Regions from separate parts of the Homo sapiens genome. Here region 2 is linked to region 1. The links come from fine-mapping of genetic effects on plasma protein levels. A gene starts in region 1. The other region holds a variant in brackets. All regions are shown on one strand. Distances are from middle to middle.

Region 1 (14,334 bases):
CCTTAAAACCCTGCACCCAGAGCGGAGCCCCCAGGCCCTTAAAGCAGGAGTCTGCAACAGGCAGGTTGGGGGCACAACCATAGCCAGGCTGTGAGGGGAGGGCTGAAATCCAACACTGGCAGCTCTATATCTTCCTGCTCTGCACTGGGGAAGGGGCTGGGGAGGTGCAGCCAGTGGGGCAGATATGATTCAAGCTACTTTTCGTACTGCATTATTTTGAGCAACTCTGTCATTTGTGTGACTTTGGACTAGTCTCTTCTCCATATTACACCTCGGTTTCTTCACTTATGAAAAGGGAGAGTAGGTGACTGCTAGTCTTCCCAGCTTCCCCAGATCCTAATTCTGTGAGTCTTCTTTCTGCTGAAAGGACAGGGGTCAGAGGACCTTGATCTGGACTCTGGTTTTTGGAAGGCCAAACCCCACTGGTTATAACCTAGGAAAGGGACTTTATAGCCAAAGGGCAGGAAGATGGCAGAGGAGTCCCTGAACTGAGCACTTGGATCTGGGGCAGCTTGAAGGGGGAGCTGCAGCAGTAGCCCTGAGGCAGCTAGGGCCAGGCCTGGTAGTAGGCTTTGCAGAGAGAAGCAGATACTTGTGCTGGGCCCAGCTCTCAGCTACCCACCAGAAAGGACAGCTGGCCCTCAAAGCTTAAAATCAGAATCTTCAGACCCCCAGGCTCTCTGGACCCAGAGCACAGACTCCTCCTGGTAGTCACGGAGTCTTTTAGCTGCAGAGCCCGGACTGGAGCTCATTTCTTCACTCTGCCATTCTGTTGAGACCAGGGTGGGCATAGGGCTAAGCTCTCAGACTCCCACTTGTGTGAGCACTCCCGTTGATTAGGGTGGCAGGTCTGTTAAGAGAGATCCAATTGCTCTCTTGGATCCAGAAAAAGTGTGAGAGTAAACACACCGGATCTGTCCTTGTTTCCACTGCCTGGGTGCCAGTATTCCTCCCCAGACATGGCACTATCTAGGTCCATTTCTGGAAGACTTTCAGAGGAATAGAATTCTGTTAGGAGAGAGAGAGGGCTGTGTAGACAGTGATGGGTGAAGACAGGCTTGGGGCTGGTTGGTGAGGTAGCAGGCATATCAAGGGGTAGAGATATGCCTTTTTGCTTTCTACAGTGTACAGTGACAAGGGCCATTTGTCAGGCTGGACAGGCTGGACAGGGTGTCTGAGATGGGGCAGGGAGCCTGGGATCTGAACAGTGGGGCCTGAAGTCAGAGGTGAGGACATGGTCAGGGAGGTGAGCCCAAGGGGCCCAGCACAGACCCATGTTTTGCTGCTTCTCATTTTGTTAATACTGAATGAGGGGGCTGAGTCACAGATAAGGACAGGGCTGTCTAATGCCCAGAGCCCTGGGAAGGCAGGGTTGGAGAAGAGGTGGAAGAAGCACACAGAGCACTGACTTGGAGGAAGAGACTTTATTTGGCCCCAGCCCCTAGCCCCACAGCCAAGACAGTTTGACATAACAGGCCCCGGGGCCCTGGTTGGGTAGAGGCAGGGTGGCCTGGCCTCCTGATTAGTGGCTGTGGCCGTGGCCACCATGACTGTGGCCGTGGCCGTGGCCACTGTGATCTTGGCCACTGTGGTCTTAGGGGGTGCCCTCCCCGAGGCCTGGCTTATGGTGGTGGCCAGGGCCCTCGTCACCCTCGTGCATCTTCTCGTGGGAGGCCCAGGTTAGCCTCGCCATCAGCATGATGAACTCCTCGAAGCTCAGCTGCTTGTCTGCATTTGTGTCCAGGTCCTCCATGATGTGTTCTATGACCTTTTCATTCTTATTCTCCTTCTGCGGGTGGGGAGAGAAGGCTGTGAGAGCTGGGTGTGGCCAGAGGTGGGGACTGGGAGCACAGTAAATGACCAGCTGGCAAATGTACAAGGGAAGCCTCACCCTGGGGCTGGATTTAAAAATTAAAAATGACCATAGGCTGAGTGCGCACAATGGAGCAGACACTGAGCACATACCAAACGCTCTCCAGTTTATTCCCTCCATGACCCTGTGACTTGGGTGCTGATTCTCTATTTATAGAAGAGGAAGCTGAGTTCCAGGGTCTTGCCCTGGTCATGGCATGAGTAAGCCTGGAAATGTCACCTCATTTGGTCCTTATAACAACTTTAACAGCTAGGAATGGTATCTTCCTGGAGGAAGACTTGAAACCAGTCCTAGAGAGGGTCATTAGTTTTCACAGCTTGACTATTGAGGGCATGCAAATTCAGATCTGACTTAGAGGCCAGTTCCACTCTGCTACCCCTCTGCACTTCACTCCTTCCCCTGCCCTCCCTTCCCTTCCCTCTGGAGGTTACCAATTAGTGAAACTTATTTCAACCAATACAACGGGGAAACACCTAGAAAAACTAGGTGTGGGCAGGGGAGATGGAGGGTCAGAGAGCAGAGTATGTGCTCCGCTGACCTCAAGGGTGTGATAAAGTATAAAAGGGGAGATGGTCGGACAGGGTGGCTCATGCTTGTAATCCCAGCACTTTGGGAGGCCGAGGCAGGCAGATCACCTAAGGTCAAGAGTTCGAGACCAGCCTGACCAACATGGAGAAACCTTGTCTCTACAAAAAATAACAAAATTAGCCAGGCATGGTGGTGCATGCCTGTAATCCCAGCTATTCTGGAGGCTGAAGCAGGAGAATCGCTTGAACCCAGGAGGTGGAGGTTGTGGTGAGCCGAGATTGTGCCGTTGCACTCCAGCCTGGGCAATAAGAGCGAAACTCTGTCTCAAAAAAAAAAAAAAAAAAAAAAAAAGGAGAGACATCAGGGGAGGTGGAAGACCCAGACCCAGGCGGGGTCCAAGAGAGCACTGGTTGGTTCCAGCTCTGCCACCCTCTGGCTGAGTCACCTCGCTAAGTCCCCTCCCAGAACCTGTGGGGTACCCAGCCAATGCGAGCACTCTCCTGTGCAGCCCATCCATGAGGCTCTGCTTCCTTTCCCACAGCATCGCTTTGCTTCTGGTGGGGGATGTCAGGTGGGGGGTGAAGCGGGCATAGGGGGTCACATGGAGGATAGTTTTGCCATGCGGCCTCTCTGCTGGGCCCTTTCTTGCCTACCCCACCCAGCATCCTGCCTGCCTGAGGCCTCCACCTATGGAGAGCTGTCAGGGCCCCTAACTCTGAAGGCTGCAATTCTCCACCTTACCAAGGCGGAGGGAGGGGCACTGGGAGGGCTGGGGACCTACCCCAGGATGTCTGGCTCCGGGACTGGAACTGAGACTGAGACCCATGTGTTCCACCCTTCTTAATGCAGGCCTCTGTTTCCCGACTTTCCCCAAATTTGAAAAGAAAACAAAAAGGCTGTTGGAAGTGCTCAGCCTTTTTCTTAGAACTGCCTAATCATTTTTGGAGCGGGGGAAAAACCTCCCAGTTCCCTGAGTGCTGTGCAGGTGCTCTCCATGTGCTCTTTATGCATTCATTTTCCACCGCAGACCCTTAGGATTAGAAAAGCCCCCAAGTCTTCCACCCCAAGTTCCCGCCTGAGGCTTAGGGTCTCCTCAGCTTTGTGCCAAGTGTCATCCTCAGGGGCTTCCCTCCCCAACATTCGGGGCTCAGCTCAAATGTTACCTCCTCAAAGAGGCCCTTCTCATGTACCCTAACTGGTCACCTCCACCCCACCCAGCCCCATTGCCCACAGCGCACTCTATCTCATTTTCTTCCAGGCACTTATTGGCATTTGGCTTTATCTGTGCTCTTTATTGGCCAACAACTTTACTGTGTGTCTCCCTCCACTGGAATAGTGGGCTCCCCATTTACCACTACATCCCTCTGCCCAGAACAGGGCCCGACAAATAGCAGGTGTTCAATTGAGCAATTTCTTGACCCTGTCGTCCTGTGTAACTGTGAGCACCTGCCCTGTATAACAGGACACTCGCTGCGTCTTGGGGCTGGGCTCCAGGAGCTCAAATCTTCCCCTTGATTGCTGTAGCCCATACTCCCATCCTCCCTTGTCAACCCAAACTGCGGTGAGGCTGGGTCAGACCTGCCAGAGTCCAGCCCTACCTTGAGAAAATTTTGCAGATCTTTTCGCACCAGCTCTTTGAATTCCCCCTGGTTCAGGGTGTCTGGGTGCCCCAGCTTCACAGAGTATTGGTGGAAGGTGTTGATGATGGTCTCTATGTTGCGTTCCAGCTGCGACATTTTGCAAGTCATCGTCTTGCACTCTGTCTGTGTAATGGAAAACCAAGAGTTGGGACACTTAGAAGAAAATGCTGTCAAGCTTCTTTGACACTTCCTACTAAGCACTCACAGAAATAGTGGGGGAAGTGCAAAATAAAAAGAAAGCACAGGCTGCAACTTAACTGGGAGATGGCCTGTCACACACATGTACAAAATGATTTTTTAGAATATCTACAGAGTGCCAAAAAGCAAAGCATTTGAGGGCAGGAGGCCCCAGGGGAACATGACCTAAGAAAATGTGAAAGAAGCTTTAAAGTAGGCAGGGCCAACCAAGGAGGGCTTCTAGGAGGAGGATTTGGAAGGAAGTTGGGTCAGGGAAGGAAAGAAGGAATCGGCAGGCAGGCTTCTGCCTGGGGAAGCTGGCAGCTCACTTACCAAAGCCGAGGAGCCACACAGAGTGTTTGCCAGAGCTGTGCAGGCTCGGCATTTATAGGCAGCTCCTGACTGGGGCACTTGGCCCTTTGGCCCTGTCTCCGGAAGATTGCTTCACAGGTGAGCAGTGTGGTAATGCTGCCAGGAAGGGGGCTGGGGCGGGGCAGGAAATGTTCACAGAGCGCCTTCTGCTTTTTTGTGAAATTCCCAGCCCTGGCCTGAAACTGGTTTGGGAGGAAGCTGGTTGTTTAGTTCATTTCCCTTCTATCCTAAGGCCCTACTCTCCCCGAGCGAGCCTGCTGCTCCTCTGGCACCACTCAGCCCCCCATCCCCTTTGAGGTTGAAGCAGGCTGAGGACCTATGGGGGCCTGACCCTCTCGGCTGCCCCCCATGGGCAGTCTGCCCCTTCCTTTTAGTCCAACAAGGATGGTCTGAGCTCTCACCCATGCTTGCCTGGCTCTGTGATACTTAGGATGGCGAGGGGTTGGTGTTCTTAGATTCATAGGGTGAGATTTGGGGTTAGAAGGGTTCTCAGAGGTGGGCAACCCTCTTGCATTGTAGATGAAGAAACTGACACCCGGAGATGGACCTGAGCAAGGTCACATAGCTGGTTGCTGACTTGGCAGGAAGGGGACCCAGCTATTCTGGTTCCTGGTTAAGGGCAATTCTGATGATACCTTCCTCTTGCAGTCTGAGTGAGAGAGCCTCAGGGCGAATATGTTTCTAGCATCTCTCAGCATCATTTTTCTAAATCCTGCTCCCAGCAAGGGTTCCAGGAACTTATAACTTGGGAGACAACTGTTTTTACTTAGCCTCCTGGTGGGCAAGATGTGTCCTTCTCCTGCTACGAACCTCCAGTTGCTCCCCATTGCCTATGGAGAAAGCTTGGCTTAGCCCTGCGCACAAAGCCCTCTTGGAATGGCCCTGCCTGTCCGGCCAGCTTCCCTTTCACTACCTCCCTGCCCACTGTGGGAACACAGGGCCCACCTCCCACCTTGCCACCCCAGGAGTGCCCTTCCCCTACTCCACAGTGATATCCTGCCCGCCCCCACGGCTCAGTTCTAATGCACTCTCTTCCAAGGAGACTGCTCTGTGCTTCCCATTTGGAAACAGTTTCTGTCTTCCTGACTATGATTCTCATACCACTTCTGGCTCTCAACACTTGCTTTCCTGGAGTAAAATTATATACATATTTTGCCTCTGTCCAACAATTGGCTGTAGATCCTCAAAGGTAGGTTCTCATTCATGTTCTCCTTCTCCTATGCACACAGCCCGGGGCTTGGCAAGAGAGACACCCTCGGATTTGCTGATTGATCCTTGCTGAAGTCCTTGCTGGCATCCTTTCCCGTCACCCCTGGAAGCCAGTATGGATGATCCACCCTGGGACTCCCTCTTGCTTGCTGCCCCCTCTCTCTATCAGGAAAGATGGTTCTCTTCTTCTACCTGCACTGGTTATTTTGTTCTGTCTCCATGAAGCCTTCCTTTATTGCCCCAGCCCCTCCTGACTGCTTTGTCCTCTGAAAGCCTGAGGCAATCTCTGTGTGTGCTAAGCATTGGCCCTAAGCATGGCCTGCCTCACACTGCTGAGATGCACCTGGAGTAGTGGTTAAGACTTCAGACTGTCTGTGTGACCTTAGGCAGTTTACTTAACTTCTCTGTGCCTTACTTTTCTTATCAATAAAATAGGATAATATCAGGACTTACCTTGAGGATTGCGACAATACATGGAAAGTTGGGAAGAGCTCAGTAAATAAAAGGTATTATTACTAATAATCTTTTCATTCATTTATGCAACAAATATTTGTTGAGCACCTACTGAGTGCCAGATATGAATGCTAGATGCTGGGAGAACTTGATGAGTGAGTCGCAATACAAAGGGGAGACATAATCTTATATCCTGTCTTCCAAATTACGTTTTAAACTCTTGGTAGCTAAGGACAGGGCTTGGCACAGTGCTAAGCACACAGCAAGCATCTAATAAATAAATGAGTGCTTGAATACATGAGTCGCCTACGAATGAATGAACGGTGCAGACACAGCTCAGGAATACATGAGGTAGATTTCCTATCCAAGTCCACCTTCCATTGTTTAAGCTAATAGAGGAAACCCAGCCAGCAGCCAGCAGCCAGCAGCCAGCAGCCAACCCTGTGTGCCAGTGCAGCCTGTTCTGCAGTCCCTGCACAGCCCCAGGCGCCCTTCCTGTGTGCTCCCATGGCGCCCTCTGCTGCCTCTGACAAAGCACTTCTCACTCAGGACCAAGGATCTCCAACTCACCCTTGCGGGAACCAGACCCAAGGTGAAGCTGGTGGGGCATGAGAACATCAACGGCAGCAGTAGGGCAACTTGTGGCCACTGATATGGGGCCTCAGGGTTGGGGACACTGGACAGTGGTGGCAACTGTGGGGAATGAGAACGTTCCTACCTTGAAGGGACAGCCAGTGTCAGGCCAGGGCTGCCACGTGGGAAAGTAGACCAGATGTTCTTGGACCTCCTGAGGGCCCAGGACATCTGAAGCTTTATATGAAAATTCCTGTTTAATACAATTTGTCCATTAATTTAAAATAAAAACAAAAAAAGCATGACAATGAAGCAGGGTGTGTGTGACTCAAACCCTGAGTGATGGTGTGCGGCAGGCATCTCTGCTTTGTCATGGAGCTCTCAACTTTCAGGTGGACTTTCTGATTCCTCCACACCACTGTGGCTCCTCTAGGCAGGGATGCTGCCTGCTACCCTCCAAAGTCTTAGCACCAGGCAAGGGCTGGCTCAGAGGCACTGGATGAACGCTTGTTGATTGAATAAATTCAGGAGTGCATGAATCAATGATGAAATGAGTGAATGTGACATAAACACTGGCCTGTCACCCTCTGTTCTGTGACTTTCTGCAGAGCCACTGACTGTGGTCATTTAGTGCTGATTCAGAATGAAAGTAAAATAGGGAGTTGGGGGAGAGAAGGCTCAGCAGTGGGTGGGAATGAGCAGCTGGTCAGGGTTTCAAAACAGACGGGAATCTGCACTTGGGGGATCTGATGCTGACAGTGGGCCCCCATCTTAGAAGGCCACTGCAGGCCCCCAGGTTCCAGGCTAGCCCAGGCGCAGGTGAGGCCAGGGCTGAGCCATTCTGGTTCTGACCGGAGCAGACAATTCCTGGCATGATCAGTAGGTGGCCGACACCCACCTGCCTCCTCACTGCCAGCCGAGGCCAGAGGTTGGACTGAGGGATGGTGGGATGGGGGTCTTCCCCTCTGGGTACTGATTTTCCAGGGAAAGTCGGAGCCTTCTGCTAGGGCATGAAGTGGGTGGGCCAATTTTCCTGGCTCTGTACAATGACTCGAGGTTTTCACTGGGAGAAAAGGGTGTGGCTTTTTGGGTTAAAAAACAAATAAGTGGCCGGGCACGGTGGCTCACGCCTGTAATCCCAGCACTTTGGGAGCACGAGGCGGGTGGATCACAAGGTCAGGAGTTCGAGACTAGCATGGCCAACATGGTGAAACCTCCATCTTTACTAAAGATACAAAAAATTAGCCGGGTGTGGTGGTGCGCACCTGTAATCCCAGCTACTCAGGAGGCTGAGGTAGGAGAACCGCTTGAACCTGGGAGGCAGAGGTTGCAGTGAGCCAAGATCGCGCCATTGCACTCTGGCCTGGGTGGCAGGGTGAGACTCCATTTCAAACAAACAAACAACCAAGCAAGTAAACAAACAAGCAGGCAGAGGTTCCTGCAGCTACCATCAAATCACTGTGCTCTTTCCCAGATGCCTGGGACCCACTGCGGGTCTGTCTTTCCCTTCTCTGCAGCTCCCACTGTGGTCTTTCAGGGAGCTTTACCCCTCCTGTGTTGTAATGGGGGTGTTACAGCAGGCACACAGTGGGACCCGGACTGAGGGACTGAGCTGGTTTTAGTCCTTAGCTTTCTCAGACTTGCTGGTGGTCTTTAGAAGTGATTTCCATGTTCGGGCCTCCATTTTCTTATCCATTACATGAGGAGATTGGGACAGCTGACCCTTAGGTCATTTCTAGCACAGATTCCAAGTTTTGATGGACTCTTGGTGGGCTTCATGACTACTACTAGCCTCATGGCCCCTGGACACTGTCTCCTGGCTTACTTGCTCCACCTGCAGGTGAAGTCAGGTCCCTCTCCTCACAGGGACTCTGATGCCTGAGGCCCAGCCCCACTCAGGCTGCGCACAGCCTGCTGCCTATTCCTCCACTCCCTGTCTTCCTCCTTGCTGGGAGTCCCAAGTGCTCTTCCTTGGAGATCTCTGGGTACGGGTCTCCTAACCACAAGCGCCCTAACATCCCCCATTTCCCCAGTGCTCATTCTAGACTCTAGTGCATTAGGATGACTTACAGAAGCTATCCACGGGTAGCTTCAGACCATTGTTCTACCACGTTTGGGCTCAGTCCACATCAAGCTTTGACCACCCCTGGCATCCTTGTGGCCTCCCTTGACTGGCCATCCTGAGGTCTCTGAGGCCCTCTGCTGAGAGCAGCCGCACTCCCTGCCCCCATGCTGGGCTGCTCCAGCATCCACAGTGAGGACCCTCCAATGATCTGGCTTCTTAGACATTCAACCTAAGCTTCCCCAAGTCTGGACCTCTCCCCCTGTCTCCACCTTGGCTGCCTCTGCTCATCATCCTCCTAATTTCTCAGACATGCCACCTTCAAAATTGAGAAAGCTGGCATTCCCTTTTGTTGCCTGGCTTCTGTTGCTCCAACCCTTTCTCCTCCCCGATCTCTTGGGAACCTGGCTTTTGCGCTCACTATGTCCCTAGGTTCCAGATCTCTGCAGAAATTTTTGGCGAGTATCTCAGCATCTGGCTTTTGGCATCCTCTGCTCTCAGGACTCCCTTTGAAGTCCACAGCCCTTTGTAAAGAATAAAGGGTTTTCACACTCAGCAGGCATTATAATCACTGGCGTTTGGATCTGTCTCCCTCATTATATTATTAACTACTTGAGAGCAGTGTTCTCAATGTACTCATCCCTGGATGATAAGCTTTGCATATGAGTGACACCTGACAAATGTTTGCAGAATAAAATGAATGACTGGCTTGGTTTGGCCAGAACTTATGCTTAGGAGATGGCTATGCCCTGTAATTATGAAGGCGTTGGTGGATAAAGCTAGTTAGAAAAAAAAAAGACGTGCCACACAGAAGCATGAAGGTAAGGAAGGAAGTGGAAGGGAGTGATGGATAAAAGAGGTTGCTCAGAGACTCCTAGTGAGTGAAAGGTGACTCCGGAGTTATCAGAGGGCGCATGCTGCCACCTTGTGGCCTATCTGCATCAGGACAGCCTGTGGGATTCCTTTGGCCCCAGGTTTTTAATCTTTTTGCTCTCTGGACCCTTTTATATGTATTCATAGAAGTTATTGAGTATCCCAAAGAGCTTTTGTGGATTAGATGTATCAGTATTTACTACATTAAAAGTTTAAAAAATTTAAAATGATTTATTAACTCACTTAAAGTACCATTAATAAACACATTACGTATTACCACGTTTTTAAACAATTAAAAATAATTATATATATATGTCAAAAGCTAGTGAGAAGAGTGTTTTTTTTTCACATTTTTGCAGACCTTTTTACTGTATGGCTTCAAAGAAGACAGCTGGTTTATCACATCTACTTCTGCATACAAGGTATTGCTGTATGTTGCTTTGGTTGAAGATTTGAAGAAAATCCAATCTCCCACAGATAAGTAGTTGCAAAGGGGATGAATACATTAATAGCCTTTAAATATATAATTGTGGATATTCTTCTCTCATATTACATCAAAACCCAACAAGTGATGGTTTCTCAAAGGTTAGTTGCAACGTAAAGTCTGAAACCATATCAATGAATTATTTGTTCTCTGTTACATTAGAATCAATTGGTCCCTCTTAAAATTTAATGGATCTTTTATCCAAACTTTGTGACTTCATATATTGATCATTTGGAAAATATTGGTTGACTGAGTTATGTACGTCTTCTAAATGCTGACATCATTTATTACTCTCTATATATACATATTTATATATATCACACACACATATAAATAAACCACATTTGGCCGGGCGTGGTGGCTCACGCCTGTAATCCCAGCACTTTGGGAGGCTGAGGCGGGCAGATCATGAGGTCAGGAGATCGAGACCATCCTGGCTAACACTATGAAACACCATCTCTACTAAAAATACAAAAAATTAGCCATGTGTGGTAGCACATGCCTGTAGTCTCAGCTACTTGGGACACTGAGGCAGGAGAATCACTTGAACCCGGGAGGCAGAGGTTGCAGCGAGCAGAGATCATGCCACTGAATTCCAGCCTGGGCGACAGAGATAGATTCCGTCTCAAAAACAAACAAAACAAAACAAAACAAAAAAAGCAAAAAAGCCCCACCACATTTGTTAATATCACCACTGATCCTGTCAGTAGTCTTCAAATATTGGGAAGCTGTCAAACTCATGGTGGCAGACACAAATTTTCCAAAATTCAAATTTTTGACTGAAAGCTCCAATTTTATTATGCTAACAAATTGTAGTTGTTTTCCCGGAAGTGAAAGGCTCACTTTGTTAATTTTCAAGAAAATGTATGCCGCATACCCAAATATGAGTATCCATAGTTTGGCTATCATTTGTTCTATGTTATTTGTTCACGGCGTCCATGAAAAGTGGCTGGTTCAGCTCACAACTGTAGCACACAAATGCTTTTCCTTGAGAGAATCAGGGTTGAGATTTAATAAAATGAGTAATTTTCACTGCTTCATCAAAAACATTCCTAAGTGAGCCTCCTTTTCTTGAAAGAATACATTGTGAAGAATACAATGACTGCTAGTGCAGTCTGACGCCACACATAGGTTCATGTCTCTAACGGTTTTTTCTACCATTGTTTTTGTGTCATCAGTGCAAATATCAGCACAGTGAGGAAAGTGAGGAGCCGGGAGTCTTGGTTTGTGGGCAGTTTCCTGTGGTGGGAAGTTCAGAGAATATTGTTCTGGAATTAGTTTTGATCTCATGGACCCCCCCAAGGGGTCTTGGGGTCCCCCAGTTTCCCCTGGGCCACTTTTTGAGAACCACTGCCTTAGGTACTTGAAGGTATGCATTATTTGAGGCAGGTCGGTGTGCTGGCTTGCTTTTCCTTTCCATTTCTTCTTTTGACACCTTTTAAAAGAGTGTCCTGTTTAAGTCTTTCTTTCTTTCTCTCTTTCTTTCTTTCTTTTTTCTTTCTTTCTTTCTTTCTTTCTTTCTCTCTTTCTTTCTTTCTTTTTTCTTTCTTTCTTTCCTTTCTTTCTTTCTTTCTCTCTCTCTCCCTCTCTCTCTCTCCCTCCCTCCCTCCCTCCCTTCCTTCCTTCTTTATCTGACAAATGCTTATTGAGTTTCTAACATGTGTCAGCATTATGCCAGACACTAAGCTAAACCCTGAGACTACAGAATAAAGTAAATTCCCACTTCTGTGAAATTCACAGCTGGAGGGAGGCTTAAGACAGAGGACAAAAAAATGTAAATATAAATAATGATAGTATTAAAGGCAGGTAAAGAGATAGACTTGGGAACTGCTCTTGAGGAGATTATAATTACAATTCATTCAGGTGCTAGAATGGAGAAGAGAGACTCTGAGCCTCTACCAGTCCCAACTAGTCACGGAGCCCTTTCCAAAGATGCCAGGCTGAAGTGGAGCCTCTGGGCGCAGGTGGGGAGCGAGGCTGGGCACTTGGGAAGGGTCTTGAGATGGTGGGAGGTGGGGCAGAGAGCACTGGGAGCCTGCTCTGGCAGCGTGGAGTGAGATGGGGCTGGGGGCCAGATAATTTAGGACTTAGGAGGTCCTCTCGGGATTCTGAGTTCACAGAATCAGAGAGGGACAACCCACACTGCTCTCTTCCTCCCTCCCGATGCCCTCGTCCCGGACAGCCCTCAGTCTGTTAGTCCTCAAGAATCTGTTGGTCTCTGGATGGGGCAGAGAATCTGTTGGTCCCCTTTGGCAGCCACCACCCAATCTCTTCTTGGGCTTCCCCTCCCCAAGCCGCTCCAAAAAGGGGAACCGAGTCTCCTCAAGTCCTTGGTGCCCCGGATGCAAGCCCAGAAACCTTCTCATTTTGAGAACTGTTCTACTTATTTAGGATGGGCGGCCAGCAAAAGGCATGGAGAAACAGCATGTTGCCAGGCTGGGGAAACTACCAGGGTCCCTACAGTGCTGGTCCCAGGCTGCAGTTCTTGGTCTCCTTCATCTCTGTCTCTGGCTCTGCCCCACATTCACCCTCACCCCAGGACAGAGCTCAGCAGCCCCTGCTCATCACACAGCTCCAGCCTGGGTCTGGGTGCATGACTGGGATGAATGCCAGGTAGACCTGGCGCATGCTCAATGGGCCCCATCCAGAGAGCGCTCCTGGGGAGCCCAGTCTGAGAGTGGGACTGCAGCTCACTGAGAGCAACTGTTCTGGATTCAGGGCACTTCCTAAGTGTCTAGGGAGGCTGCCCCACCCTCCGGGACATGAGAGGCTCTGCAGGTCCCCGTGGAGACTGCATCCTACTGCGTTCTTGGAAAGTGTCATGCAGAGTTTCCTCTGTGAAGACTCAAGGGCTGTAAGTCCAGGTTGCAGAATGTGGAATGAGATTAGGTGACAACTGGAACATGGCGAGGAGCTGGAGATTCTTGGTTTGTGGGAGGCTTTCTGTGGTAGGTGGCAGCTTGATGCCGACGGTGGGGAGTGGCAGGCGGGAGGATGATGGGCAGACATGTAAGCTATTGGGGCAGAATTAGGCATCGTGAGCTGTTTCCTGAGATTGTACCTCCCAGTTTCTCTCTGTCCATCCTGACCCTGCTCATGACCCTGGTAAAAGGTGGTGTTGGTGAGTGACTTCAATCCACAGTCTTCAGGCTCCTGGAGCAGAACTTCACAGGCAGGAAGTTTCTAGATGTTGCAGACACAACCCTCAGGCCCTGCAGGCTTTCCCAGGTTGGGGCTGAGGACGAGCTCTCGGGAGTGTTGGGCAATCTTGCCCTTTCCCAGGGAGGAGCTACCTGGGCTTATTCACAGGGCGGGTCCCCAGGTGCTCTCAGCCTGAGTCTGGTCCCACTTGCATTTCTCCAGGTGCTGTGAAAGGAGCTGGCTCAGAGCCTTGCCCTCTGTCTTCCCTTCTCCCCATCTTTTGTTAGGGATCCTGGGCTCTCTTCTCTCTGGGAAGCTAGAGCCCGAGTGCTCCATTCCCAGGGAGGGAGTGCCCTCTAGGGCTAGGGAGAGTGAAGGCTGGAGGAGAAGGCGCCAGTTGGTGAAGAAGGGCAGGGCCTGGAGGCCAAGTCTGGAAGGGAAGGAGCTGCTGGCCAATCAGGGGCAAGCTGACTGCACCCTGACCTGCTGGGCTGGGACAGCACAGGACCCACAGATATCTGTGAGTTGAGTATGTGTTTCTTCTTCAGAAGCCCTCTTCCAGCAAAGGGACTGGAATCCACCAGAAAGAGTGTTAAGGATTGGATTTCCTCTGCCCTAGAACTAGGAACCCCTCCTACTCCTATATCTCCCTCATCTGGCATATTCCCAGCTGGGAAGGGATTCTCTGCATAAGACCCATCCATATGAGTCTGGATTTCTCGGTTGTACCATTCTTGGATCTTACTTCCTTTGTCTGTAAAAATGGGGGTTAACAGTCTTACATGACAGGATTAGTGTGAGGACTAATTAAATAAGACTGCATGTGCAAGTGTGTACACAGCCTTGCACGCCGTGGGCACGTGATGAAATTGAGTTCCTCGGGTAATAATAGGACAGGGATGCTGAGCACCTGCTGTATGCTGGGGGCCCTGAGAAGACTGAAGCAGGT
Region 2 (15,832 bases), 55 kb after region 1:
ATTGCTTGAATCCGGGAGGTGGAGGCTGCAGTGAGCCGAGATCGCGCCACTGCACTGCAGCCTGGGTGACAGCGCGAGACTCCATTTCAAAAAAAAAAAAGAGAGAGAGAAGGAGAAAAAACCCAGAGAGAAAAGACATGTCCTCCACTCCCAGCTCCAGCATGACAGTGTCTCCATTGTCCCTCAGAGCGCTCCTGGGGCTCCCATGATGAGAATGGAGAAAGGGAGCCCTCAGGTAGCCTGACGCGGCAGGTGGGATCTCACAGCCCTGCCGCTAGGGAGTGTTCGCCCGGAAGAAAGAGGTGCAGACCCCGTGTTTATGGAGCCTCCTGTGGGCTCTGGAGTCCCTAGTTGAGGAGACTGATAGAGCTTCCTTCAGAGAGTCATGGTTCTTAGGGGAGGGGAAGACAAGAGACACAGTTGAGACCAGGGCAAATGGCAGTGAGGAAAATGCATCCTCAGGCTTCTGGGCTAAGGAGGCAGCTCAGAGCCCCAGGGTGGGCGGCGGGGTTGGCTGGGGTGCTTTCTGAAGGAGGGGAGCATGTAGGCCAGGGGGCAGTAGGGGATGGGATTTGCCCTTCAGGGAAAGACAAGGAGAGATTGTCTGGGAACAAGGCGGCACGACTTCCCAGGCTGAGTGCAGCGTGTGTCTGGGCAGTGGTTCAGCCACAGTGGAGAGAAGGAGGGGGCTTTGGTGGTGAAGGGCTCCCCCAGGGTGTCTCCCATGCATGGGGCAGGTCGGGCCTGAGCATGAGAGGTCAGGGCACATGGTCGACCTGTTGGGGGAAGATGGGCAGGGCCTGCTATGTGCCATTCTGTGGTCTTCCCTACAGATACTCCCACCATCGTCTCCCGCAAGGAGTGGGGGGCAAGACCGCTCGCCTGCAGGGCCCTGCTGACCCTGCCTGTGGCCTACATCATCACAGACCAGCTCCCAGGGATGCAGTGCCAGCAGCAGAGCGTTTGCAGCCAGATGCTGCGGGGGTTGCAGTCCCATTCCGTCTACACCATAGGCTGGTGCGACGTGGCGTACAAGTAAGAGGCTAGCCAAGTCCCTGAGGCCCACATCCAAAGTCACGGGGGTGCTTCCCACTTCCCCTTCTCTGTGGCTCTTATTTTCTGCGCTTCATTTACATTGCTTTTGTAATGAATAGAAATGGTAAAAGGGGAATCAAACAAAATCCGAATCCTTCGGGGATTGTAAGAGGGATGACTCTAAGCCACTTATTTAAGTGGCTTTCGATTCTGGTGCTCCTGTGAAAAAGCAAGGAAGGTTACGTAACAACTGCAGTTTTAACTGAGTCCTTGGAACTCACGAAACGTTACAGTTTACAGAGGTCTTCACAAATATCACCCGATTTGGCCCTCCCAGCTACTCTGAGAAATGGGTTCCTACCCATATTCCTACCCTTATTTCACAGGCGGGAAAGCCATGGTTTGGGGGAATTAAAAGCTCTGCTCAGAGAGAGGAAGCACGTACCCAGAGCTGTGTGAGAGCACCTGCCAGTGTAGCCCTTGCTCCTCCCCACCTCACAGGGACTCGCACCTGGGAAGCAGTGTCCCACTTGTTACCCTGAAAGACCACTCTGACAGCAAGTCCGGGGACCCCACCGGGGAGAGTGGGCTTTGGGAATGGCGGGGAGGAGAGACCCGCAAGAAACAAGGGAGGGCATGAAGGAGCTGTGCACTGTGCATTGAGTTTCTGCTCTGGGGATCATCAGTGGAAGCCCAGAACCTTTTCTCCCTTAGCCTCAAGAATGAGGAGACACATGTAGAAGGAGAGGGAAAGAGAGAGTGGGAATGGGGCTGTCCCGCATGGAACTCTAAAGACAAACATAAATAATTTCTGAATTATCCATTTTGGAAAGGAAAATCTAAGTCTTATTTATTTATTTATTTATTTTTAAACACAAATAAATAAGAGCAGCTGCAGGCCCTGGTTTTGGCCCCCAGCACCCCTGGGATGGCTGGGTCTTCCCTGTCTGCCCATGGGGCATGTCATGTCAACCACGACTCACCTGCTGCCCCTGCCACCAGCACCTCCACCATCCTGCTGTTGTCGCTGCTGTGTTTTCTGGTTTGGTCACTGTATTCCTAAGTTATTTCAGCCTCTGCATCTCTAAGTCAGGTTTCTACAGTGACAACTTGACAATCTCCAGTTTTTGCAATGCAGCTGACAGTAGCTGTAAGGGACTGTTCACACCGTACTAACCACAGGCTGCTGCAGGAGTGACCAAGGAACCTGTGAAAGTACTGGCAGCAAAGCCAGGGAAGGGGTGGACACACCAGGCTCCACACCCATTCCTCATGTCGACATCGGTGTAGGGTGGAAAGTCGGCCTGACTCAGTTCAGTGTCTTTCCTTGACCTAAGGGAGGTGTTCTTTCTGTGTTCAGTTTGCTGCGGAAACTCATGTTCTATTAAAAGATGAATACGGCAAAGTTGTGAAAACATCAATTCTGAAGACTGATTGGAAAGTGGAGGAGAGAAATTATAAAGAGGCAGGAATAAAAGAAGTAGAATAAAAAATTGATTTAAAAAGTAAATGTGAAAAAGGAACATTCTAAACAAATTTCTATGATAAAGAAGAGCTTAAGGAAATTCCTAAAGAGAATCTGAAGAAAAACATCAATACAAAAGGAACTATTGAATCTGGCATAATTATTTTAGAGAATGTTCAAGTGTTTGGTCCTATAATTTAAAAACATGATGTAGTAATTTTTAAGCTCTTGAAAAGCATTGAACTAATGTCCTCAGGTCCTTGAGTGTCATGCAGTCAAATTCCACTTTGAACCAAATGAGTATTTTTGAAGTGAGGTTCTGGAAAACACATGCAAGCTAAATCCCAACAAAAATTAAAATATATTCCCATGTCTCTTGGAGGTCTAAAACTGGTTATTCTGCACCTCCTATTGTTTTGTTATTGGAACATAGTACTTACTTATGAGCCTCCAGAACCCCTTTTCCTTTTGAGGATCAGTGAGAGGTTTTCATTTATGGAGATTTGCAGTAAAATCATTATTTCCTTCTTGTCAGCTTCCTGGTTGGGGATGATGGCAGGGTGTATGAAGGTGTTGGCTGGAACATCCAAGGCTTGCACACCCAGGGCTACAACAACATTTCCCTGGGCATCGCCTTCTTTGGCAATAAGATAGGTAAGGGTCACTCCCTGCGGACCCTGTGCTGGAGAGTTGTGTACACTCTCTTCCTCCACTCCCAAGGGTCAACACTCATCTTTTTACCCTACATCATACTTACCTTCTCTGATGATCACCCTTCTCTTGAAATTCTTTTCTCCTTTGGATCCTGTGACATGCATACTTTTTGTCCTCTGCCTCTCTTTACTGGTCTGTACTCCTGTGATATTGCTGAAGCTTGCATGGGCGTTGCTTGAGCTCACGGTTATTGCTGTCACTTCTAAAGTCTGAGGTTGTCTGACATAGATGCTGTGACTGCCAGAGGCAGAGAAGCATGGCTCATCTCTTATTCCAGTTCCACTGGTAGAAAGTGACCAGAAGGCAGCAGGCAAGGAAATCTGGAGGTATAATTTGCAGGCTTCTAGCCCCTAGAAAAATAGAGAAAAGCACAGAACAGGGATGGAGCTGAGAAATAATACATATGGAACCAGCACCTGCCAGCATCCTCATTTGACAGCTGGGGCTAGGTAACAGCATTTCTCTCAGAGGTTTTCTGTGAGAGTTATGAGTTAACAGATATAAAAAGCCTACTGCACACCTGATCAGGGGAGCTATGAGTAAATTCTGGTTGCCTTTTCTCCTGTGCTAGTGCACACCTGACTTGGTCAGGTGGGCCTCCCTTTGCATGTATCCTTCACTGCCTTCCAGCTCTTCTGCCTAGAGATGGAGTGGATAAAGTCTTAGCTTGGCTCTTGGAAGAAGTTTTCAACCTTGGCTGCTAAGAGATCTAGGTAGCTTCTCGCCTCTTAGGCACTCTGTTCTGGCAACTGGACCAGTTTCCTCTCTTCCAATCCAGTTATTCAGGCTCAAGTGGTCATATCATCCTTTCTGCAGGTGTCTGGTCTAGGTGGAGTTTCTTACTGACATTTTTGTGCTCCCTGTCCTCCTCTTTAAGGCAGCAGTCCCAGCCCTGCTGCCTTATCAGCTGCAGAGGGTCTGATCTCCTATGCCATCCAGAAGGGTCACCTGTCGCCCAGGTATATTCAGCCACTTCTTCTGAAAGAAGAGACCTGCCTGGACCCTCAACATCCAGTGATGCCCAGGAAGGGTAAGACCCTCCATGTCACCTCACCCTCCTCCTCGTCACCACCTAGCCATGTTTGGAGTCATGTTTGGGAGTGCTTTTTCCTGTTAGACCCCATGGGATTCTGGGACTAAGAACATCTCATGCCTACTTTGAGATCTGGAAAATTCTGAGAGGGCATCTTCCTGGCCTCCTCTCCATCCCATCAGAATGAGATAGCCATAGACTTCTTCTTAAAACAAATACATATGTACACAGATTTTCAGTCAGTCAACAAATATTTACTGCATAGCAGGCACTGTTCTAAGTACTGAGCATACAGCTGTGAACAAAACAGATGAAACTCTTCACCTTCAGGAAGCTTGCACTTCAGTGAGAAGAGACAGAAAATGAACAAAATAACAAAGAAATGTATATGATGTTAGACGGCATAAAAGCTATGGAGAAAAATAGAGTGGGAATGGAGTGGGATTAACATGTATACATAGTTGTGTCTATTATGTGGGGACACGAAGGACATACATAAGCTTACATACCTTTCTAAATGCAAAAACCAGCCATGGCCACAGCACAGCCACAGCTCGGAGAAAAGCTTGTGCTCACAGATGATGCTGACATCAGAGTGCATATAACAAAAAGCTGAGTAATAAAAATAATGCACTATTTTGAAGTGAATAAGCAGCAACCTAAAACCAGTCAAATTAATAAGCACTCCTGCTAGTGGACCTTTTCTTGGGATCAATGATATTTTTAGAATTAGCTTTTTAAAACTGTAAATCTCAAATAAAATGTTTCTTGCTTTTGGACAGGCACTATCTTCAATAATGATAATTTCTTAATATTTGTACAGTTCTCTCTAGATTTCAAGTTGTTTCCAAATATGTGTGATCAGTTCGGAGAGTCCACTGACTTCCGCGTAGTAGCCCTGTTACATAAGCGCACATACCTGCATATATATTTGCAATGCATGGTCTTTTGAAGACAATGACCATGCCTCTGTATAACCCACAGCCCTTTCCCTTCTGCTTATACGCTGATTTCTATTGGTATCAGGCCTGTAGATTTTTGCCTCAGCCCCTTGGCTCCAGCCATCTGAATCAGAAACCTCCCAACTGGACTTCCCCAGAATCCCAAAGCTGATATTACATTAGGATGTGCCCGTGGGTGCTGGAGGCCTGGGAGAGGCTGAGGAATAATCCAGCCTGGAGTTGAGTGATTGCTCACAGAGAGGCAAAAAAAATTCCTACTTCCTTGGCTTTTCATTTTACCACAGTTTGCCCCAACATCATCAAACGATCTGCTTGGGAAGCCAGAGAGACACACTGCCCTAAAATGAACCTCCCAGCCAAATATGTCATCATCATCCACACCGCTGGCACAAGCTGCACTGTATCCACAGACTGCCAGACTGTCGTCCGAAACATACAGTCCTTTCACATGGACACACGGAACTTTTGTGACATTGGATATCAGTAAGTGGGATCAATGCCAAAAGAACCCTCTTTTTCTTCAGGATTGTAGGAAGGAAGGCTGTGGGAGGGAACTGATGTTTCCTGAGCCTCTCCTTTGGGCTGGGTGGTTTCCATAAGGCATCATATTTTATTTTTGCAAGATTGGGCTGAGGATCATTCAGAGCATAGCTAATGGTCAGTTACCTCGCTTGGACGTATCTCCACAAGTGGTTGGGAAGATTCTGAAAAGAAGGCATTAGAAGCCTAGTGATAAAGCAAGACTGTGATACCCTCAGGGAAGGCCATGAAGGGTTGTACCTTTTTAATGCAATCCCTTCTAACCTGTCAGAGACAAAGGCCTTGCTCACTCCTATCTCAGTCTGCCCAGCTCCAAACTTGCTCTCTCCGATGTTAGAATCCTGCTATTCCTCTGGTGTTACTTACCTCATTTTATAGATGTAGGAACTTTTAACCTCTCTGGGCCTCTTTTGTCTCATCTCTACAATAGGGACAATGCTTTATCTGTTTGAAGACAGGGAGCAAGATCAAAACATTTTCTTTTGGTACCTTTAATGCCAGGTCTGTAATAAAGAAACACATTAAACTAATGGAGTAGAAGAAGCTGCTTGGAAGATGTCTTGGAATTTTCAAAGGAAGGATTTAGGGCTAGAGTATAATGTATTTCAATTATTCATCTGTGACTTAATCACAACAAATCTTACAAAGTCTCAGGTAGATGTGCTTTTGCACATGTGTTGTTCTGGGCCTACTATCTCTCCTTTTAACTCCTGTTTTAAAAGCAGCCTTTGCAAACAGGAGGGAACTCTTGCTTCACTTTGCAGGATTTTCCATAGGCTTTCTATGGTTATTTAGCACAGGTAACAAGAAATTGACTAAAAATCTGGAAATTCCACATGGAAAATGCCAGAAGGTGAGGGAATGTTTGTTTTCCTCTTTCACTCAGTCTTTAGAGACTCCATCCCCGTTCCTTGACTTTTCAAAACCTGTTGCAATATCCTTCTGCTCCAGCCTCATGATATGTCACCTGTAACCCTGATATGGACTGTAATCAGGACAAAGCACCCACTCACACATTATTTTCTAGTTTTTTAATCAATAGTTATTGGATAGCTACTATATGCCTGGTGCTAGACGAGATATATCAATCTAACAACAAACAGAGAGAGATTCTCCAAAGATGATTAATTTGGCCAGGCACGGTGGCTCATGCCTATAATCTCAGCATTTTAGGAGGCCGAGGCGGAAGGATTGCTTGAGGTCAGGAGTTTGAGATCAGCCTGGGCAACATAGGGAGACCCCATCTCTTCAAAAAAATAAAATAATTAGCTGGGTGTGGTGACATGTATACCTGTAGTCAGTCCCAACTACTTGGAAGGCTGAAACGGAGGATCGCTTGAGCCTAGTAGTTTGAGGCTGCAGTGAGTCATGGTTGTGCCACTGCCCTTCAGCCTGAGCAACAGAGTGAGACCCTGTCTGAAAAAGACAAAAACAAAAGCAAGAGAATAAAGATAAGTATTTTATTTGAGAGTGTAAAGGGAATTTGCAAATCTGGGATATGCATGCTACAGGAACCACAGGCATATCCAAAGAGGTTCAGGCTAGGGGAAGCTTTTAAAGGCAAAAGGCAAAAGTTTGTTTTGAAATAAAGGGAACACTGGAGAACATTGGAACTTATCGCGGGAGGTGACACCAGTTCATTAGTGGAGACAGTGTGCTGGGCAAGTGTTCTTCATCAGCCAGATGTCCTTGTGACTAGTAACAAGCTGCAGTTTTGAAAGTTTTTGGCAAAAGTTCTTGTTACAGGCTTGTGTGCGTAAGAGTCCTTCAGAGAGTCTTTGTGCTAGTTCTTATTGTAGGCTTGTGTGCATGAGGGTCCACCCTTTTCAACCTCCTGGCTTTATTTATTTTTGTTAGAGTTTGACACAAGTGACTCCATTTTGATTCTGACAACTTTCACTGATAGATATGAGAGAAGGAG[G/A]GCTAACAAGTAACTACAAGTCAAAGTGTTTGAGCACTGTGATGGATGCAGAACAGGATAATGTATATGATGAGTCTCTAATCAAGGCTTTGTGGGGGGTGATTGGGGTCTGAGAATGGCTTCTAGAGGGAGGAGTATCCTCATTGGGACATGGATAAGCAGTGGGGTTTATTCAGGCAAAGAAGGAGGAAGAGTGTCTGGGTGAGGAGGAACAGTATTTGCCAGGGCCCGGGGTTCAGACAGAGCATTACAAATAGATTTGAAAGAGAGGAGTGGTGAGTAGTAAGGGTGGGAAAGCCTGGGAGGGGCCACATCACGGAGGGCCTCATAGCAGACTCAGAGAGACTGACTCAATTTGAAAGGCAGCTGCAGACTATTTGGGAGGTCATGCTCTATGATAGGATTTGTATTTTAGAAAAATCACTCTGGGTGCTACTTTAAGAATGGGTTGGAAGGAGGCAAAACTCTGGGCAGGAAGCTATTGCAGTGATCCAGTGACTTGCAGTGGGATCGTGGCAGTTGGTCTAGAAAGAAGTGGAGGAATTTAGAAGCTGTGTAGGAGATACAATTGACAAGCCATGATTGGTGACCAGGTGGGCTGAGTGAGGGGGTAGAAGGCATTCAGGGTGTTGTCCAATTTTCTAGCTGGATAAATTTTAGAAGAAGGTGGGTTTGCTTGGACTGTTTTTACAGGTAGTACTTGAAGCTGTGGCAATGATTGTCCAGGGTGAATACGTTGAGTGAGAGAATGGCCTAGACTAGAGTGCGGAGGAGCACCATGTTTGAGGAAGGTAAGGTGGGGTGGGAGAGGGGCCTGAGGGAGCAGCAGGAGGAGGAGAACAAGGAGGGTTGTGGTTGTGGAAGCCCGGGGAAGGGAACATTTTAAGAGAGTGGTCAACAGGGTCAGTGTAGTCTAGAAGTAAAGTAAGTGTCCATTGTACTTAGTGCCAGGAAGCCACTGCTCACCTTGGAGGGGTCAGATTTAGTGGTGTGATGGGAACAAAGGCCAGGTTGAAGTGGACTGTGGTATTTTTTTGTTTTGTTTTGTTTTCTGTCCTTGTCCACATTGGCACATAAGAGATCTCCAGTCAATATTGGATGAATGGATGAAAGAATGAATGAGTGGTTGAAGGAGTGAATGAAGTATTTAAATTCTGTTTCCCAGAGTGACTGTCTTCATTTTCTTTTCCTGACCTAAGCTTCCTGGTGGGCCAGGATGGTGGCGTGTATGAAGGGGTTGGATGGCACATCCAAGGCTCTCACACTTATGGATTCAACGATATTGCCCTAGGAATTGCCTTCATCGGCTACTTTGTAGGTAAGGGGTGAGCATGGGGTAGAGGGGTGCTGGGGGTTGAAGGACCATGCAGCATGTCTGGGAAGCATGGCGGGAAAGGCAGCCCTGTAGTGCCTGGCAGTGTGAATGGAACATTTTAGCTTTAAAGTGGACTCTTAATACAGGATGTCACCAGGATCCCCTTTCAGACAGAGCATTTACCCCCAAATCCACCCATCCCCATGCCCAGCTCCACCTTGCTTTATATCCAAGGCAAACATGGAGCAAGGGGGGAAACGTCTTTTGCAAACTTCAGTGCTTTTATCGCTCAGTTGGCAAATGTGTCCCCTTTCTTGTTAGCCATGGCAACAATTTGGGGAGCACCACTGCCTGTTATGGAAAACCAGTGGGCGGCCCAGTGGTGCTGTATCTGCTTTATACCTGCTCAGAAGTGGTGTGTTGTGCTGCAGTTCTCCTCCAGAACAGTTTTTTATATTTATTTATTTATTTTTGAGATGGAGTCTCGCTCTGTCTCCCAGTCTGGAGTGCAGCGGCGTGATGTCGGCTCACTGCAAGCTCCACTTCCCGGGTTCACGCCATTCTCCTGCCTCAGCCTCTCGAGTAGCTGGGACTACAGGCGCCCGGCTAATTTTTTTGTATTTTTAGTAGAGATGGGGTTTCACCATGTTAGCCAGGGTGATCTCGATCTCTTAATCTCGTGATCCGCCTGCTTGGCCTCCCAAAGTGCTGGGATTACAGGCGTGAGCTACTGCACCTGGCCCCCTCCACAGCAGTTTTTAACCTTCTGGAAGAAACTTTGGCACGGAGGAATCAGAGAAAGCAATGACCTTGTTTTCTTTTTGTGCCTGATTGCCACAATTTACGTAAATGTGTTGGCTATGGTGATGGCGGAATGGGGCGTGGTGGAGGAAGAAAGAAACTGGAATCTAGGTGCTTGTCCCTTCCCTAATCAAGAAACTTTGAGCCCCTAATGACTGATGGGGAAAATGTGTTTTGCAGAAAAGCCTCCAAATGCTGCAGCGCTGGAGGCGGCCCAGGACCTGATCCAGTGTGCCGTGGTTGAGGGGTACCTGACTCCAAACTACCTGCTGATGGGCCACAGTGACGTGGTCAACATCCTGTCCCCTGGGCAGGCTTTGTATAACATCATCAGCACCTGGCCTCATTTCAAGCACTGAAGGAGGCCCCACTCCCTTTGAGACTGCCCTCCCTCCCCTGCTGGGTCTCTCCAACCCTCACCAGCCAAGGTGGCTCAGCACCTTGTGTCCCCCTCCCCTGCCAGCCCATCCTTTCTCAGGTTTGAATGGTCATGTCCTTTCCTGCCAACATCCTCCAGGAGCCCCCAAACCTCACAGCTGGGCATTCACAGCCCTCTTGGTCTGAGTTTAGACTTCCCCTCTCTTTTACCTACCTCTCCCCTGGGCACTTACCTCCTCAGTCAGGCGAGACAATGGGCTGGTCCTTGTGGCATTTCTCTCTCTCTCCCCCCAACCCCTGTCTCCTCTTCTTTCTTTCTTTGCTTCCTTTCTCTTTCTTTCTTTCTTTCTTTCTTCTTTCTTTCTTTCTTTCTTTTTCTTTCTTTCCTTCCTTCCTTCCTTCCTTCCTTCCTTCCTTCCTTCCTTCCTTCCTTCCTTTCACCTTCTTTCTTGCTTTCTCACTCTCTCTCTCTCTCTCTCTCTCTCCCCCTCTCCCCGCCTCTGCCTGGTGAGCCTTCCCTGTTTTCTGCCTGGAAGCCCCCACCCTTCATCCCTCACCCATGACCTAGGTCAGTGTGCCCACCCCCCCTCTCTGCTCACACATGGACTGGTACATATTTGGATGCAGCCCTTACTTAAGGGCTGTAATTATTTATAGATATGATTTATAGATATGTCTGTCCTCTCCTCTGGGTTGTAAGTTTCTCCAAGGGAGGAATTCTATTTTATTCATCTCTATCCTCAGTTCCTCAGCAGTGTTTGGAGTTTAATAGGTTCTACAGATGTTTGTTAAAGAAATGGATGAATAAATGAATGAGTGGACCCAGGTCCCTGTTCACCTTGCCAGTTTGCTTCGGAACTTCCCCTCTGAGGCAGCCTTCCTGGATAGTGTCCCCATCCCACCAGCAGCATTCTCTCTGTTCCTGTTCCCTCCCAGTCCAAGGCTCAGAGCTGGCTCTGGTCGTCTGTCTGTAATGGTGGCTGTATTGTTAGGGTCTCGCGTCCATGTCCCCCAAGAGCACCCTGAAGGCAGGGAGCATGTGCTTCTCTGGGTCAGGCCAGGGCTGTGTCCACACAAGCTGCCCAGTGCCTGCCACTTGCCCTTGCCTGGCTGGGTCCCACTGGGTGTTGGGCTGAGAGAGAGCCCAGAGCCCTGGTGCTCTGTAGCCCTCCCTACCTGGGCTCCTCTTGCCCAGAGGGAAGCTCCTTTTCTTCAGATGGGGGCATGATGACGTACTGCTGTTTACCGGAAGCACGTGAGCTGGCTCTTGTTTTCACGGGTTTTGATCTGGAAACAAGGGAAGGTGTTGACAAAGAGTCAAACTGTGTAAAATATTTGAAGAGATTTATTCTAAGCCAAATATTAGTGACCACGGCCTGTGGCACAGCCCCAGCAGATCCTGAGAACATGTACCCAACGTGGTCAGGCTACAGTTTGGTTTTATATATTTTAGGGAGACATGAGACATCAATCGATACATGTAAGATGTATATTGGTTTCGCTGGAAAGGTGGGACAACTCCAAGCAGGAGGTGGGTGGGTGGCGGGGGGGGCGTCCAAGTCATAAGTGAATTCAAAGATTTTCTGATTGGCAATTGGTTGAAAGAGTTATTATCTAAAGACCTCCAACCAATAGAAAGGAATGTCTGGGTTAAGATGGGGATTGTGGAGACCACGGTTTATCATGCACATGAAACCTCCAGGTAGCAGGCTGCGGAGCTCTTATCAGACCTAAAAGGAGCCAGACTCTTAGTCAATTCTCTCCTGGATCAGGGAAAAGACCTGGAGAGGGAAGGGAATTCTCTACAGAATGGGAATTTTCCCCACAAGAGACAGCTTTACAGGGCCATTTCAAAATATGTCAAATAAATATAGTTTGGGGTAAAATACTTCAATTTCTTTCAGGATCTGCTAACTGTCATGTTGATATCTTATAGCAACAGTCTGTTTGGTCAGTCTTAAGATCTCTGTTTTAAGGTTAATGCTGGTCAGTTGTGCCTGAATCCCTAAGGGAGAAGGGTATAATGAGCCATGTCTGACCCCACTTCCCAACATGGCCTGAACTAGATTTTCAGGTTTCCTTTGGAATACCCTTGGCCAAGATGGAGGTTCGTCAGTCAGTTGTGGGGATTAGAGCTTTATTTTTGGTTTAAAGAGGGAAGGAGGAAGAAGGGGTGCCAGAAACATGGGCTTTCTTCCCCCTGTACATGTTTTGAGTACTGATGCTGTGTCTTTGCTTCCAGTGTTTCACGTCTCTTACAAAGCAGGCTTTAACGGCCTAATCTGTATACAGCTCTGTGCTTTCAAAACGGTCCCTCCGATCTCATTAGATTGATTCTGTCCATTTGTCATTTGCCCTATGGCATCCTGGTTATGTAAGCAGGGGAAGAGTGGTTTGTCTAGAGGGTCACATAAGCCCAGGGAGACTCAGAACTCTTGCTCCATTTATACAATCAGAGGAAGGTGGCTCCAGTAGAACTCCTGTAGTGAAAGGTCTTCCTCCTGCAGTAAGAAGTGACACTCCTGCTAGCCCCCTTCTGGTGGAGGGGTGGGGTGTGGGCACAGGCTTCCCAGAGGAACCTTCCCCAGCAGGGGTGAGTTTAACATCCCCTCATGCAGGAAGTAGCCAGAGGGGTAGACTGAGATGCTGAGAAATGGTTTCATGAAAAAGGTATCCTTATAATTCTTGGCCTTCCTTATAATCCTCCAAAATAGAGGGTCTCCTCTTTTTGATTTAAACACCATTCCCAGGCCTTAGGGACTCATTGACCTCCCTCCCCAACCTCCATCCCTTATGAACTTTAGAAGAGACTGTAGACTCCCCAACTCCATCAGCACTCATGAAGGCCTCAAAACAACAATATTGGCTGGGCGCGGTGGCTCATGCCTGCAATGCCAGCACTGTGGGAAGCCAAGGCGGGTGGATCACCTGAAGTTAGGAATTCAAGACCAGCCTGACCAACAAGGTGAAACTCCGTCTCTACTAAAAAAACAAAAATTAGCCAGGTGTGGTGGCAGGTGCTTGTAGTCCCAGCTACTCGTGGGGCTGAGACAGGAGAATTGCTTGAACCCGGGAGGTGGAGGTTGCAGTGAACCGAGATAGCGCCACTGCACTCCAGCCTGGGCGGCAGAGCAAGACTCTGTCTCAAGAAAAAATACTGCATGGTCTGGATTATTGTTTTTCCCAAATTATCTACTTTTATTGATCTTAAACATACTAAGTAAAATCAGAGCACTCAACCGGCAAATGCCCCTTCCTTCCTTCCTTCCTTCCTGTTTTCTTGAGACACAGTCTTGCTCTGTTGCCCAGGCTGTAGTGCAGTGGCACTATCTCGGCTCACTGCAACCTCCACCTCCTGGGTTCAAGCAATTCTCCTGTCTCAGCCTCCTGAGTAGCTGGGACTATAGGCGCCTGCCACCACGCCTGGCTAATTTTTGTATTTCTAGTAGAGACGAGGTTTCACTATGTTGGCCAGGATGGTCTTGATCTCTTGACCTTGTGATCCACCTGCCTCGGCCTCCCAAAGTGCTGGGGTTACAGCGTGAGCCACTGTGCCCAGCCAGCAAACGCTCTTCCAAGGCAAATTCAAGGCAGCTTATTCCAGGCAGTTTGCTTCTCCTGTGTTCTTTTATAGAGAAATTCTTCCCAGCTTCCCCTTAATCATTTAGAGTGAGGGGCAATACTAACACCCCCCTCAGAGGATTATCGCCAGGGTTAAATGAATGATCAGGTGTAAGGGTCTGAGAACTCGTGCTCAGCATTGAAGAACCATTCCACTGGCATCGGGTGAGGCGTGTGATTGTTGCTGTCTGTTACTCCTGTTTGACTGTGGCAGGAAGGATGTGCCTTCGTGGGCATCAACCGCAGCTGCCTGGGGAAAATTGGTGCAGATTGTGCCCAGACCTGGTGATGAGCAGGGAGGAGCCAGGCAGGCCTGCAAGTGGGTGGGGCAGGTTTGAAGCAGCCCACGGTGAAGGAGGGGGCACAGCCCCTTCATGGCCCCCGGCATTGTCAGGGTGGGAAGGGCCCAGAGCTCATCGACTCAGTGGTTGTCCATGATTATAAGCTGGGAAAAAAAGACTCCAAAGTTTTCTTTGGTTCCAGCATAGTGAATATCAATCTGGTTAAAGCCTCCTGTTTCACGGAACACTGAACCGGAAGGAGGTAGATGACCTGTTCAAGTCGCCCCATGAGTTAAGTAGAGGAAGGAGCACCCAGGTTCTGAGGTTGAGGCACGGCATGATTCCTATCACCCCTCTGCTAAAATCATGGTATGGCCTCTCCTTCCCCACTGAGTCAACTAACAACACACGAGTATGTCGGTTAGGGCCTCCATAATCTCTTTCCCACAGAACAAGCCCGTGCGGGTCACTTGCAGTCTCACACGCTGGGCTTTCACATGTTCCTGCCTTTGCCTGCACAACTTCCCCTCTCTTGACCTCTCCAATCCCACTTTTTTTTTTTTAGCTGCTTTTCAAAGGCTTGCTCTTCCAGAACCTGCTTCTCCAAACTAGAAATGGCGTCTCCCACCGCAAGCGCCCATGGACTCGGCCCCGGCCTCGTAGTGCCTCTTTGCTGCCCGCGTGCCTTCTCCCTGCCGGCTTGGACTCCCCGAGGGCTGCACCTGCTCCCCTCGCTCCGTCTCCTGGGCCAGTACAGGGCCTGGCACACTGCTGGGGCCACCTAAGCGTCTGTAGGAGGAAAGCCAGGATGGGTTGGGCAGAGGCAGTGTCTCCCTCAGCTGGTCTCAGACGCTTACCGCAGAGCGGAAAATCCCAGTGTCTCCACTGTTGAGCCTCCGCAGATTTCTCACAGGGAACTCCCTCTTAATGCCAGGCCATCCTTCCCCCTTACCCTCTGGCGGCTTCCCCTCTGCTGGTGAGATCTGGGGGAGACATCCTATCTTCTCCAGCACCAATGCCCTCCAACCCCGCCCCTGTGGAGGCTCCTGTGACCCCTCACTGTGGTGGATGCAGCCTCTGGGGCTGTGGGTGGTGGGTGTGGTGGGGTGTGGTGCGCGGGAAACGCAACTGCAGCTGCTCCCCTGGCGGTGGCTTTCTTCCGACTGGCTGACTTAGGAAAACCTTTCTTCCTGAGCTTCCTGCCACCCTTCCCCATGCTTCCTGGGCTCTTCCTCTTCACGTTGTGGGCTTTTTTCTTTCCAACATTGTGTCTTGTGTGTGTCTGTGCCTCCCTCCCCTCCCTCTCGGCCTCTTCTTTTCTCTCACGCTGCCTCCCTGCCTGTTTCTTCATGCTCCTCATTTTCTGTCTGTCTGCCCTTCTGCTCCTGTTCGTGCCTGTCTTTATTCTTTCTCTTCTCTTTCACCAACATCTAGAATATGGCAGTGTGAAAGGATTAGTGGGGGAAGTGGGTCTGAGTCTCAGTACAGTAGACACCCACAAATTATCTCCTCGCTGCGCCCTGAAAATCATCTCCACACCCTGCCCCAGGGCTGCGGGGGTGCTGGGAGTGGGAGGAGAGGGTCAGAAGGCCAGGGGCAGGGTGGCTCTGGGGAAGGTATGCATTTGGGAGCCAGACTGAGCACACCCAGTGTGTTTCTGGCCCAGCAGGTTCCGTCAGGCGGGGCGTTAATTAGAGCCTGGCCCTGCAAGAGGGGAAGGTGTTATTAGGTCGAAGGACTGGTGGGCAGGGGTGGAGCTCCCAGGA

Alleles and levels. Alleles are on the strand shown, and positions count from the first base shown. The strength of an association depends on the size of the effect and on how common the allele is.
As copies of A replace G in region 2, the plasma level of the protein whose gene starts at base 13,592 in region 1 goes down (weak association).

What was found. PIP is the posterior inclusion probability: the model's chance that the variant is causal. The UK Biobank Pharma Proteomics Project read protein levels with antibody pairs (Olink). The fine-mapping took linkage between variants from a reference panel, not from the people measured, so its PIPs are less certain.
Region 2: its variant is fine-mapped to the plasma level of the PGLYRP4 protein (UK Biobank, PIP 0.97).

Annotation. Positions count from the first base shown.
Region 1 is chr1:153,348,099-153,362,432 of GRCh38, reverse strand. PGLYRP4 (peptidoglycan recognition protein 4) reads left to right here and starts at 13,592. Exons shown (of 9, transcript NM_020393.4): 1 at 13,592-13,905. S100A9 (S100 calcium binding protein A9) reads right to left here and starts at 4,579. Exons shown (of 3, transcript NM_002965.4): 1 at 4,552-4,579; 2 at 4,000-4,164; 3 at 1,410-1,789. The coding sequence starts at 4,149. The coding sequence ends at 1,595. RefSeq lists silencers at 8,633-8,682, 9,708-9,757.
Region 2 is chr1:153,292,269-153,308,100 of GRCh38, reverse strand. It overlaps PGLYRP3 (peptidoglycan recognition protein 3), which reads left to right. Exons shown (of 8, transcript NM_052891.3): 3 at 834-1,035; 4 at 3,036-3,154; 5 at 4,092-4,244; 6 at 5,494-5,692; 7 at 8,870-8,988; 8 at 9,967-10,985. The coding sequence ends at 10,145. Among named protein-coding and RNA genes, the nearest start is that of PGLYRP3, 13 kb to the left of the region's middle. The variant G/A (reference allele first, on the strand shown) is at 7,671.